Linked DNA regions of Homo sapiens. The protein of the gene in region 2 purifies or fractionates together with the protein of the main gene of each other region. This does not show direct contact. Each region holds a gene or a part of one and is shown on either strand. Other genes may lie near its edges.

What was found.
Region 1: the proteins of UBE2O (region 2) and BUD23 purify together in Homo sapiens (affinity purification with mass spectrometry; 7 studies listed by BioGRID and IntAct, with this or other methods). This does not show direct contact.

Annotation. Positions count from the first base shown.
Region 1 is NC_000007.14:73,693,597-73,698,712, forward strand, and holds the end of BUD23 (18S rRNA (guanine-N(7))-methyltransferase), read left to right. Parts: intron 1-27; coding exon 28-73; intron 74-395; coding exon 396-454; intron 455-3,869; coding exon of another isoform or gene 3,870-3,920; intron 3,921-4,008; coding exon 4,009-4,098; intron 4,099-4,235; coding exon 4,236-4,290; 3' UTR 4,291-4,616; downstream 4,617-5,116.
Region 2 is NC_000017.11:76,388,488-76,394,528, reverse strand, and holds the end of UBE2O ((E3-independent) E2 ubiquitin-conjugating enzyme), read left to right. Parts: intron 1-2,415; coding exon 2,416-2,619; intron 2,620-2,715; coding exon 2,716-2,773; intron 2,774-2,915; coding exon 2,916-3,586; 3' UTR 3,587-5,073; downstream 5,074-6,041. UniProt on the Homo sapiens protein: E2/E3 hybrid ubiquitin-protein ligase that displays both E2 and E3 ligase activities and mediates monoubiquitination of target proteins. Negatively regulates TRAF6-mediated NF-kappa-B activation independently of its E2 activity.

The DNA of each region.
Region 1 (5,116 bases), on a different chromosome or scaffold from region 2:
CCCTCACTTTGCACTTTCTCCTTTCAGATTCTACCTCTGCTTGTTTTCTGGGCCTTCGACCTTTATACCAGAGGTGAGGGACACTGGGTTTGCAGGCAGGCCTGTGTCTTTTGACTTCCAGGCAGTGGGGCTCAGCCTGCAGAGCCTGCTGGGAGAACACTGGTGGGGAAGCAGGGCCCAGCCCCAGAGTGCAGACCCTGGAGTGCTCACATCCTCTGGAATCTGGAGGCAGAGACCTCTGCTCTGCAGGTCCCAGAAAGGCGTGTCAGTTCCTTCTCGTGGGACTGGACCTCGTCCCTGTCGGAAGGGTCAGGCCTGGGTGCCTGGGCTTCTGGAGTGGGGCAGATGGTTTGAGAACTCTCCAGGGTGACCTGAGTGCACTTTGGTTCCTGCAGGGGCTGAGTGAAAATCAGGATGAAGTTGAACCCAGGGAGTCTGTGTTCACCAATGAGAGGTAAAGCAACTGCTGAAGCCTGCCCCGGCTGCAGCGGGGGCTGCCACATTTGTTAGACATGGACTTTCTCTCTGCCCTCACCCAAGCCTCTCAGGTCACATGCAGCAGGGACACCAAGGTGACGGTAGAAACATCAGGTCCCATTTGGACTGTGCCTGTTTGGGGCTAGGGGTTTGGGGTCCTGGATGTCTGGGTGCAGCCATGCAGCCTGGACTCCCTTTGTGAGCCCACACATGCCCCTTCCCCTTGCCACGCCTGGCAGGCTGTCTCCTTCTTTTCTGATGCTGCCCTCCACCTGCATCTGGGACCCTCTCCCTTGGGTGCTGTGGCTCTCCCTTCCTTCCTGCATCCTCATCTTGACTCTCCTGGGTCACTGCTGTCGGCACACAGACATGCTGCACAATTTCTCCTTTTCTAGAAAAGTTCCTTCCTTAACCCCATAACAACAACTAACCACCCCGTTGTTGCTTCCCTTCATAGCAGAACTCAGACCTGCCTCTTCTTCCCCTCCCACCATTCTCTCAATCCACTTCTCAGGCTGACAATTCTGTCTCATCACAAATTGTTCTTGTCAACTCCACCACCAATTTCCATCAAGCCACATCTGGTCACTTGTGACTTTTTTTCATGTCCTTAATGTGCCTGCTCGGTAGGGTCAAAGACAGCAGTGCGCTCCCTCCTTGACGCTTCCTTCACTTGGCCTTCCACCCACCATCGTGGTTTCCTCAGCCTTCCTGGCTGCTCCTCACTCCACTGCTGCTTCCTCTTCGAGTGCTGGGCCCAGCCTGGATTGGATCCCTTCTCTACCTGTGGTGCTGTAAATGCCAGCCGGAAGGTCCTAATTCCCAAATGTGTATCTTCAGTCTCTTGCCACCTGGGGTTTCCCAATGCCCCCTCAGTGTCTATACCTGGAGTTTCCATGGGTAGTCTCTCTCTGTTACCCAGGCTAGAGTGCAGTGGTGGAATCTTAGCTCACTGCAGCCTCGAACTCCTGGGCTCAAATGATCCTCCTGCCTCAGCCTCCCAAGTAGCTGAGACTACAGGTGCATGCCACCATGCCTGGTTAATTTTTAAAGTTTTTGGTAGAGATGAGGTCTTGCCATGTTGTTCAGGCTGATCTTGAACTCCTGGCCTCAAGCAATCCCCCTGTCTCGGCCTCCCAAAGTTCTGGGATGACTGATGTGAGCCACCATGCCTGGCCATCCTCCATTCTTTTTTTTTTTTGAGATGGAGTCTCACTCTTTCCCCCCAGGCTGGAGTGCGGTGGCTTGATCTCGGCTCACTGCAACCTCTGCCTCCCAGGTTCCAGCGATTCTCTTGCGTCAGCCTCCCGAGTAGCTGGGATTGCAGGCGCCCGCCCAACTAATTTTTTGTGTTTTTAGTAGAGACAGGGTTTCACCATGTTGGCCAGGCTGTTCTCAAACTCCTGACCTCGTGATTCGCCCGCCTCGGCCTCCCAAAGTGCTGGGATTACAGGTGTGAGCCACTGCGCCTGGCCTCATCCTCCATTCTTTACCATTCTTGATCATTCCTGTCTTTCCCTACATTTCACATCTTGTCAGCCTGTCATTGAGCCCTGCTGTCCGTCCCTCAGTGTGTATCCCCGTGCTGACCCTCCCTGCTTCCAACGAGCCTAATCCAGCACTGCCCCTAGCCTGGATTGCTGAACAGCTGCCTGTGTTGTCTCCTTGCCTTTGCAGTCTTTGCCTCTTTCAGATTATTTTCTGCATAGCAGCAAGACTGGTCTTTTTCTTTTTTTCTAAAATGTAAGTTGTATCTTGTCATTGCTCTTTTAGTGCCTTCATTGCAGTTGTGCTCCCCGCTCATGTTGATTTTCCTTAACACCCTTCACTGCTCTAAGTCATACACATACCAGTTGACTTGGTTATTATTTGTATCTCCAGCTAGAGTGAAAACTTGGTGAGGACTGGTATTATATCCCTGACATTAAAAATAGTGTCTTGTTAGTAAAAAGTGCTCAGTATTTTTCTGAATGAATAATTGATTATAAGGTAGTGAAGAGGGAGGTTATATCTGAGGTCCAGTTGACATGAGGGAAAGGTCTTAAGACCTTTAAGACATTTAAGAGGAAAAATGAGCCCAAAATGCATGTGTTTGGAAGGCCCACAGCTGGGCACAGCCATGCATGTTCCTCACGTCCACCATAGGTTTATGCTGCCTGACCCCTTGGGTCTTTGCTCATTTCCCTTAGTTTCCCTAGTCCATTCCCCATGGGGAGCTGGGACCCTTCTGGATGACCTCTTCTCTGAGGCGCCCATCTCGTGCTCCCAGGGAGCACTCCCATCTCCTCCCTCCCAGGGGAAGTACACATTGCCTTATCTCCATGTGTCTTAGGATCCTTCTTGTCCTTACACTGGTGTCTTCAAACGACATGTCCTAAAAGTAAATGTGGGTAAGTTGAATGACCTGAGCATCCATTCCTCAGCTATTCAAAAAGTAGGGGTAGTGCCACCTATCTTGGCAGTGTGTTGAGGGTGCCCAGCACGTACCTTGCCATCCCTCGTTCTGTAGGCTCTCACTTCCAGTTCCTCAGATGAGGTACAGGGCAGGGAGGAGCTTCTCCCGTTACTGTCATCTCAGTCTAACCACATTCAGGACACTTGTTTATTTTAAATAAACAGGTGAATTAAGAAAAAGTTTTTTAAGTCTTTACCTAATCAGTCTCCAGGCTCTCTTTTTGGCCTGTTCCTCCCTTCCTCCTGGCCGCCTCCCTCCCATGCCTCTCATGTGCCTCCTGCAGGGCTGGGCCCCCACTTCTCTTGGGACCTGTGCTTTGGGGCACTCCCCGTCTTCACCTCCTTCCTTTAGCTCCATTGATGACTTTCCCCCTTGCTGCTTCTCCCATGGCTCACCTCTTGCCCCCTGGTTCGCCACTCTGCCCTCACTTTGTACTCTTTGTAGAATCTTGAGATGACTCCTCCTGTGTCCCCAGCCCTGCTCTGCAGCTGCTCCTGCTTTGTGCTGGCTCATCAGGCTCAGGCATCCGAATGGCAGCTCCTTGGCTTGCCCTGTCTCTGGTTTCTACGGATGGTCACAGGGGTCTTCGGGGTTACCCCGCCCTCTTTCCTTCTTCCCTCATACCCCTCAGTCCTTCCTTTTCAGACCCTCCTTTCCATCCCTGTCTTCCTGCCCCCAAGCTGTGGGACCCTAAGCTCCTGCTGTGAACTGTCGACTGTGCTCTTGAAGTCTAGGTGATGATGTGTCATTGCATTGGTAGAAAGCGGCCTGCTTACTGCTGCTTAGCTGCTTCCCGAAGAGGGAACAGACTGCTCGCTGGTGTTTAGGTCTCCATGCCCGGCCCAGCTCTCTCCTCCTCTGCCCACCCAACAACCTCTGTGGCCCGGATGGATGTTATCAGGAAGGAGGGTGTCCAGAGCGGGGAATTGTGTTATAGGGAAGGTGGAGCATTTGAGAGAAGGGGCATCCGAGGCCACCAGACTCGGAGGTAAGCTTGCCATGGATTCACATGGGGGCCAGTCGGGCAGCCCCATCCATCAGCTGTCCATCAGCTCATAGCTGTGTCTCCGCCACAGGTTCCCATTAAGGATGTCGAGGCGGGGAATGGTGAGGAAGAGTCGGGCATGGGTGCTGGAGAAGAAGGAGCGGCACAGGCGCCAGGGCAGGTGAGTGCCAGCCTGGGAGCTGGCAGGGTGGGTGGGGGGTGGATGACTATTGCCATGAAGAGCTTCCCTTTATTTGAAGGGTCCAGGGCTGCTTTGATCTTTTTTTTCTGAGACTGTCCTATTCCTTTTCTGCACAGGGAAGTCAGACCTGACACCCAGTACACCGGCCGCAAGCGCAAGCCCCGCTTCTAAGTCACCACGCGGTTCTGGAAAGGCACTTGCCTCTGCACTTTTCTATATTGTTCAGCTGACAAAGTAGTATTTTAGAAAAGTTCTAAAGTTATAAAAATGTTTTCTGCAGTAAAAAAAAAGTTCTCTGGGCCGGGCGTGGTGGCTCACACCTGTAATCCCAGCACCTTGGGAGGCTGAGGTGGGAGGATCATTTGAGGCCAGGAGTTTGAGACCTGCCTGGGCAACATAATGAAACTTCCTTTCCAGGGAGGAAAAAAAAAAAAAAAAAAAGCTCTGAGAGCATCTTATTTTGTTTAAAGGCAAGAAATAAAATTTCCTTTTGTGGAGCTCTGGCATCTCCCAGCTCTGTGATTCTCACCAAACTCCAGTTCCTCCTGGTGGGCTACTGCTCGACTCCCCAGGCAGGAATCAGATTTAAAACACTTAGATGAAAGCATTCTTTCCATTTGCAAGGAACACAGAGTCCTTTAATTTAGGGCTTATATATAACTGTATCATAATCACACCAAGCAAAGTTGGGAAGAGGGCCCACATGAAATGTGTTCGTGGTGCCTGCTGGCCAGTCCGTTTTCCCTTCCTGTGAAGGCCTTGCCAGTCCAGCGGCCCCAGCTTGAACTGTGGCACTGAGCTGCACGGTCAGCTGCCTACCAGCCCAGTGCTTGGATGTCTTGGGCTGATCTCTTGTCCCGTCACTAGTGGTTGGAAAGGGAAGGTCCTGCTCTGGGGTAGTGTGGGACTGTCCAGCTGGCTGTGATAGGAGAGGAGGTGTAATGGTTGCTTGAGCCTTTTGGTCCATGTGGGAAGAGGGGCAAGATCCTGGGCATTG
Region 2 (6,041 bases):
CAACCTGTGTTGATTCATAATGATCTAGTTTCTTCCTTTTTACCTGCAAAATAGGATGACAGCATGTGGCCACACCACATTCCATTTTCCCACTCCTCTGTTCGTGGACGGGGCCTAGTGTCTCTGAGTCATGTTTACTGAGGCAGCGCTGAGTGCATCCTTCCGGAACAGGCAAGCCCGTTTGCCTGCCACCTTGTTGACTCCGCAGTCCCTTACTGGGCCTGTGCATCGAGCCAAGCACTATGCTAGACTCTGAATCTGAGTCTGAGGCCCCAGTTCTGGCCCTGTCCTGGAAGGAAGGGAGTAAGAAAAGAAAGAGCAGGGATCCTGAGAGCAGCCAAGCGATCCTGAGAGCAGCCAAGCGGGATGCTGTTGAGATGGGCCCGGAGTAGCCACAACCCTGGAACAGGGCTAGGCAGAGTCCTAAGGCCCAGTGCTGCTTGAGATTCTTAATAACGCTTTTGGTTTTTTCTTGGGTTGTAGGAAAATTCCTTTTGAAAATTCTAGCCTGTCTCAGCTCTGCTGAGGGAAGATGGAAACAGTATTTTTTGTTTTGTTCTGTTTTCCCCACATCTCACTCAGGAGAAGAAAAGTAGTGCATTCCCTGGAGGCTCCCAGGGTGGCACCGATAAGAGCATGTGCAGAGGTTCCCTCGCCCCAGCTAGCGCTCTGCCTTCCCTGCTTCTCAGCTCATCACTGACCTCGCCCATTGCCCTGTCAGTTGAGATCCCACACACACGCGTGTGTGCACAGATGCACGCAAATAGATGCACAGATTCCAGATGTCTGTGGAGCGGTGGTCTCCCAACCTCCCCCATGGAGTTCAAACCCTCACTGTCAGCTTCTGGTTGTGAGACCATCCCCCCTTCCCCAGGCCTCACCAGCCTGGAACTGCCTTTCAGCTTGAAACTGCTTGTACTACTTGCCTTGTTGGGGATAAGGGTTGGAGCAGGTGTTTAGAGGAATTGTTTTGTTTTGTTTTTAAAAGACAGGGTTGGCCGGGCGTGGTGGCTCACGCCTGTAATCCCAGCACTTTGGGAGGCCAAGGTGGGCGGATCACAAGGTCAGGAGTTCGAGACCAGCCTGACCAACATGGTGAAACCCCGTCTCTATTAAAATACAAAAAATTAGCCGGGCGTGAGGAGACTGAAGCAGAGAATCGCTTGAACCTGGGAGGCAGAGGTTGCAGTGAGCCAAGATCACACCACTGCACTCCAGCCTGGGGACAGAGCTATACTCCATCTCAAAAAAACACATAAGCCAAAAAATAAAAGACAGGGTCTCACTCTGTCGCCCAGGCTGGAGTGCAGTGGTGTGATCATAGCTCACTGCAGCCTCAGCCTCCTGGAGTCAAGTGATCCTCCCATCTAAGCTTTTTGAGTAGCTGGGACTGTAGGTATGCACCACCATGCCCAGCTAATTTTTTATTTTTTGTAGAGATAGGGTCCCACTATGTTGCCCAGGTTGGTTTTGACCTCCTGGCCTCAAGCAGTCCTCCCACCTTGGCCTCCCAAAAGTGCTGGGATTACAGGTGTGAGCCATCACGTCTGGCTGAGGAATACAATCTTTTTTTTTTTTTGAGATAGCGTCGCACTGTCACCCAGGCTAGAGTTCAATGGCACAATCTCGGCTCACTGCAACCTCCGCCTCCGGGTTGAAGCAATTCTCCCACCTCAGCCTCCCGAGTAGCTGGGACTGCAGGCATGCATCACCACGCCTGGCTAATTTTTGTATTTTTAGTAGAGACGGGGTTTCACCACGTTGGCCAGACTGCTCTTGAACTCCTGACCTTAAGTGATCCACCCGTCTCGGCCTCCCAAAGTGCTGGGATTACAGGCACGAACCACCGCGCCCAGCTGGAATACAGTCTTAAAGTAATGATTTATGAGGAAAAACACCTGATAAGATAAAAACTCACTTCGAGTATTTCTCTTAGCCAGGGTTCAATGATTCCAGGCAAGGGCCAGGCACAGTGACGGCTCAGGGCTGTAAACCCAGCACTTTGGGAGGCCGAGGCAGGCGGATCACTTGAGCCCAGGAGTTCGAGACCAACCTAGGCAACATAGTGAAACCCTGTCTGTACACAAAATAAAAAAATCATCTGGGCACGGTGGCCCACACTGTAGTCCCGGCTACTTGGGAGGCTGCAGTGAGCCATTATTGCACTAGTGTACTCCAGCCTGGGGGACACAGCAAGACCCTGTCTCAAAAAAAAAAGATTCCAGGCTGTTCTGCAGAGAGAGATTTGTCCTTAGCTTCTCCACTGCTGGTGGCATCTGGAGTCCCAGGTGCTGCTCTTCCTGCGTGATCTGCACAGTGTCCTGGGAAAGAGCAGGTGCAGATGCAGATGCCACATGTAGGACACCCCCTTCCACCCCTGCCAACCTTGGCCTCCCTCCCTCCCTCCCTACCTAGGACCTCTTCTCAGCTCTCATCAAGGGCCCCACTCGAACCCCCTACGAGGATGGCCTCTACTTGTTTGACATCCAGCTCCCCAACATCTACCCAGCCGTGCCCCCCCACTTCTGCTACCTCTCCCAATGCAGTGGCCGCCTGAACCCCAACCTGTATGACAATGGGAAGGTGTGTGTCAGCCTCCTGGGCACCTGGATTGGAAAGGTGAGTATAGGGCCAGGCCCCCAGCCAAGAAGGAGGAAGAGCCACTGGTGGATAGGGGCCTGGGGAACAGAATTGATGGTGCCCTGTGTGTTTCAGGGGACAGAGAGGTGGACAAGCAAGTCCAGCCTTCTCCAGGTGCTCATCTCCATCCAAGGTACAGTTGGGCTGAAGCGGGGGTGCGGACAAGGGAGGGCCGGTGGAGGAAAGTGACTCTGATAGTCCCCCTGGCAGGTGGAGGGTAGGCCTGCATTGTGGGCCTCTCTCACCCACTGAGGGAAGGTGTCCCGCCCACACAGGTCTGATCCTGGTAAATGAACCATACTACAACGAAGCCGGCTTCGACAGTGACCGAGGCCTGCAGGAAGGCTATGAAAACAGTCGCTGTTACAATGAGATGGCGCTGATCCGCGTGGTGCAGTCCATGACCCAGCTGGTGCGGCGGCCCCCCGAGGTCTTTGAGCAGGAGATCAGGCAACACTTTAGCACTGGTGGCTGGCGGCTGGTGAACCGTATCGAGTCCTGGCTGGAAACCCATGCCCTGCTGGAGAAGGCCCAGGCACTGCCCAACGGGGTGCCCAAGGCCAGCAGCTCGCCAGAGCCCCCAGCTGTAGCCGAGCTGTCAGACTCCGGCCAACAAGAACCTGAGGATGGAGGGCCAGCCCCAGGAGAGGCCTCCCAGGGCTCAGACTCAGAGGGCGGTGCCCAGGGCCTGGCCTCAGCTAGCAGGGACCACACAGACCAGACTTCGGAGACCGCACCAGACGCATCGGTGCCACCCAGTGTGAAACCAAAGAAGCGGAGAAAGAGCTACCGGAGCTTCTTACCTGAGAAGAGTGGCTACCCTGACATCGGCTTCCCCCTCTTCCCACTTTCCAAGGGTTTCATCAAGAGCATCCGGGGTGTCCTGACGCAGTTCCGGGCTGCCCTGCTAGAGGCAGGCATGCCGGAGTGCACAGAGGACAAGTAGCTGCCAGGCACAGAGGAAAGAGCATCACCGTGGGAGAGGCCAGCCGCCGCCTGCTCACTCCCCCCCGGAATCACCCCTCTTCCCATGCCCCTCTGTCCCCACTGCAAACCCACTGCCCTCTTCTCCCCAAGGTGAGTTTGATGCTGAAGTGCAAGAAGTGTGTTGAGATGCTGCCGTTTCTATTTTGAAGCGAGCTTTCAACAGGCGGGTCCCCTGTGGCAAAGAAAATCGGAACCCTGTTGCCGATTTTCCATTTGTCACCCCAGCAGAATGTCCGGCACTTGCTCCCTTGCTGCCCCTTCTCAGGTCAGAGGCGGGTGTTCCAGGGCCTGCCGCGGGGCTCTCTGGGCCGGTTCCCTGCAGACCCGCAGGAGAGCACATGTGCCTTGCATGAAGTGTGGGTTGCGCCAACAATTCCCCTGGTCCCTTTCAACCTGTTTAGTTCAACTCAAGCCTCCCTGTGTCCCAGACCCTCCTGCTGCCACCACCACCCAGGTCCTCCCTAGTCCTCCAGCGTCAACACTATCCCTTGGGAGTTGTAGCTGCTGTCACTGACTCCCGGCTATACATGGCCTGTCGACCACGTTATAGCCCTCAGGCCTGTTGAACTTGCTCTCTAAGAGAGGTTGGGACCAGGCTAGGTTCCGGGTGACGCCCAGGAGAGGTGGTGGCCTTCACACATGCACATGGAGTTGAGGACCAGGGAGCTGCAGGGAAAGCAACAGCTATAGGTGCCTTGCTCTTCTGTCGGAGGCTGCTGGGGGCAAGAGCAGCTGCACAAGGCCAGGGCAAGTGCTAGGGCCCCTCCCCCATCACATGGTCACACTGGGACAGGCGTGCAGCTCACTGAACTCCAAGCGAGCCAGCCCTCTCTTGGACTAGAAGGCCTACTGTCAGCCCTTCGCTTACAAACTGCAGGCTCAATCCGAAGGGGACGGCCGGCGGGGGCTCTCCTAGTGCCCAGAGACAGGCCCAGAGGTTTACAAGTTTTCTAAGCTTTTGATAATGTGAAGCTCCAGGCCGAGAGGATGCTGTTGAGCACATTGCAGCTATGTAATTTTTGGTGTATGTATGTAATATTTAAGGTTGGAAAAAAAACTCAAAAGCAAAGATATTAACTCTTATTAGAAAAAAAGACAAAAAAAAAGCCAAAGCATGATGCGTCTTGTCAGCCTTAAGTGGGCTCCACACCTGTGCTGTGCTGTGACCGCCCAGCCAGCAGAGCTGCGGGAGGATGGAGCCGGACCACACACCGTGGCATTTGGAACCGAGTCGGTATCTTGTTTGAGAAACACCCGGAGTGACTGGTGGGGCTGTGCTTCCCAGTGCATTGTACATGTGGAGATGTGAATGCCTACTGCTTACGATATCTGTATAAAGTGCTGTGTGATTAAACTTTTTTTTACTTGCATTTTTTTTTTTTTTTTTTTTTGTGTTGGCTCATTAGCAAGACAAGGTGACACCATTAAACCTCCCTCTGCCATTCATCTGGGCTCCGTTGCCTTTGTGTCCCTCACACACACCCTTCCTGGGGAAGGAAAGACCTTGTTTGTTGCCAGGGAAGGCATGTGGCAGTGGGTCCTGGCTTTCCTGGCCAGGTGGGGGCCACTGTGAACAGCACCCCCACCCGCCCACACTGCCCTCTGCCTGCCAGACCTGCTTGCATGCCTTTTGTACTTCTTGTCCTGGAGCAGTCCTCTGGCCTCCTCCTGGCCGGTGGTGTGCCCCTCAGGAGCCAGCTTAGAGCAGCCTCCCAGCAGCTGTAGTCTCCAGAGACCTACAACTGACCAGTTCAGCTCCTTCCAGGTTCTGGGAGAGCCGACGTCATAGCACCTGGCGGTGGACAGGTGCCACAACTCCTGGACGCTAAGCCAAAATGGTTGCCCAGTTTAGACTTGGATGGATCCTTCCCTGCCACATTCTTTCCACTCCTGCCTGGCACTCCTCCACAGGGACAGGTAGGGAAAGGAGACAGCTGAGGGAGGCTGGGAGAACCCTAGAACCCTAGACCATTGTGGTGGATGACAGACTCCTTTTAAAAAGGTAAGATACCAGGTGTGGTGGCTCATGACTGTAATCCCAGCACTTTGGGAGGCAGAGGCGGGCAGATGACTTGAGGTCAGGGGTTTGGGATCAGCCTGGCCAACATGGTGAAACCCCATCTCTACTAAAACTACAAAAATTAGCTGGGCATGGTGGCATGCACCTGTAATCCCAGCTACTCAGGAGGCTGAGCACAAGAATCACTTGAACCCGGGAGGTAGAGGTTGCAGTGAGCCAAAAAAAAAAAAAAAAAAAAAAAGCAAGATATTGCCATTTTTTACTTCTGAGGTCTCCTGCTCCTTGCCAATTTTTTTGGGGGGGGGCGGGGGCGGTGGCCAGTGGTTTTATTGTTTTTGTTTTTGAGACATTCTCACTCTGTCTCACCCAGCCAGGCTGGGGTGCAATGGCGCGA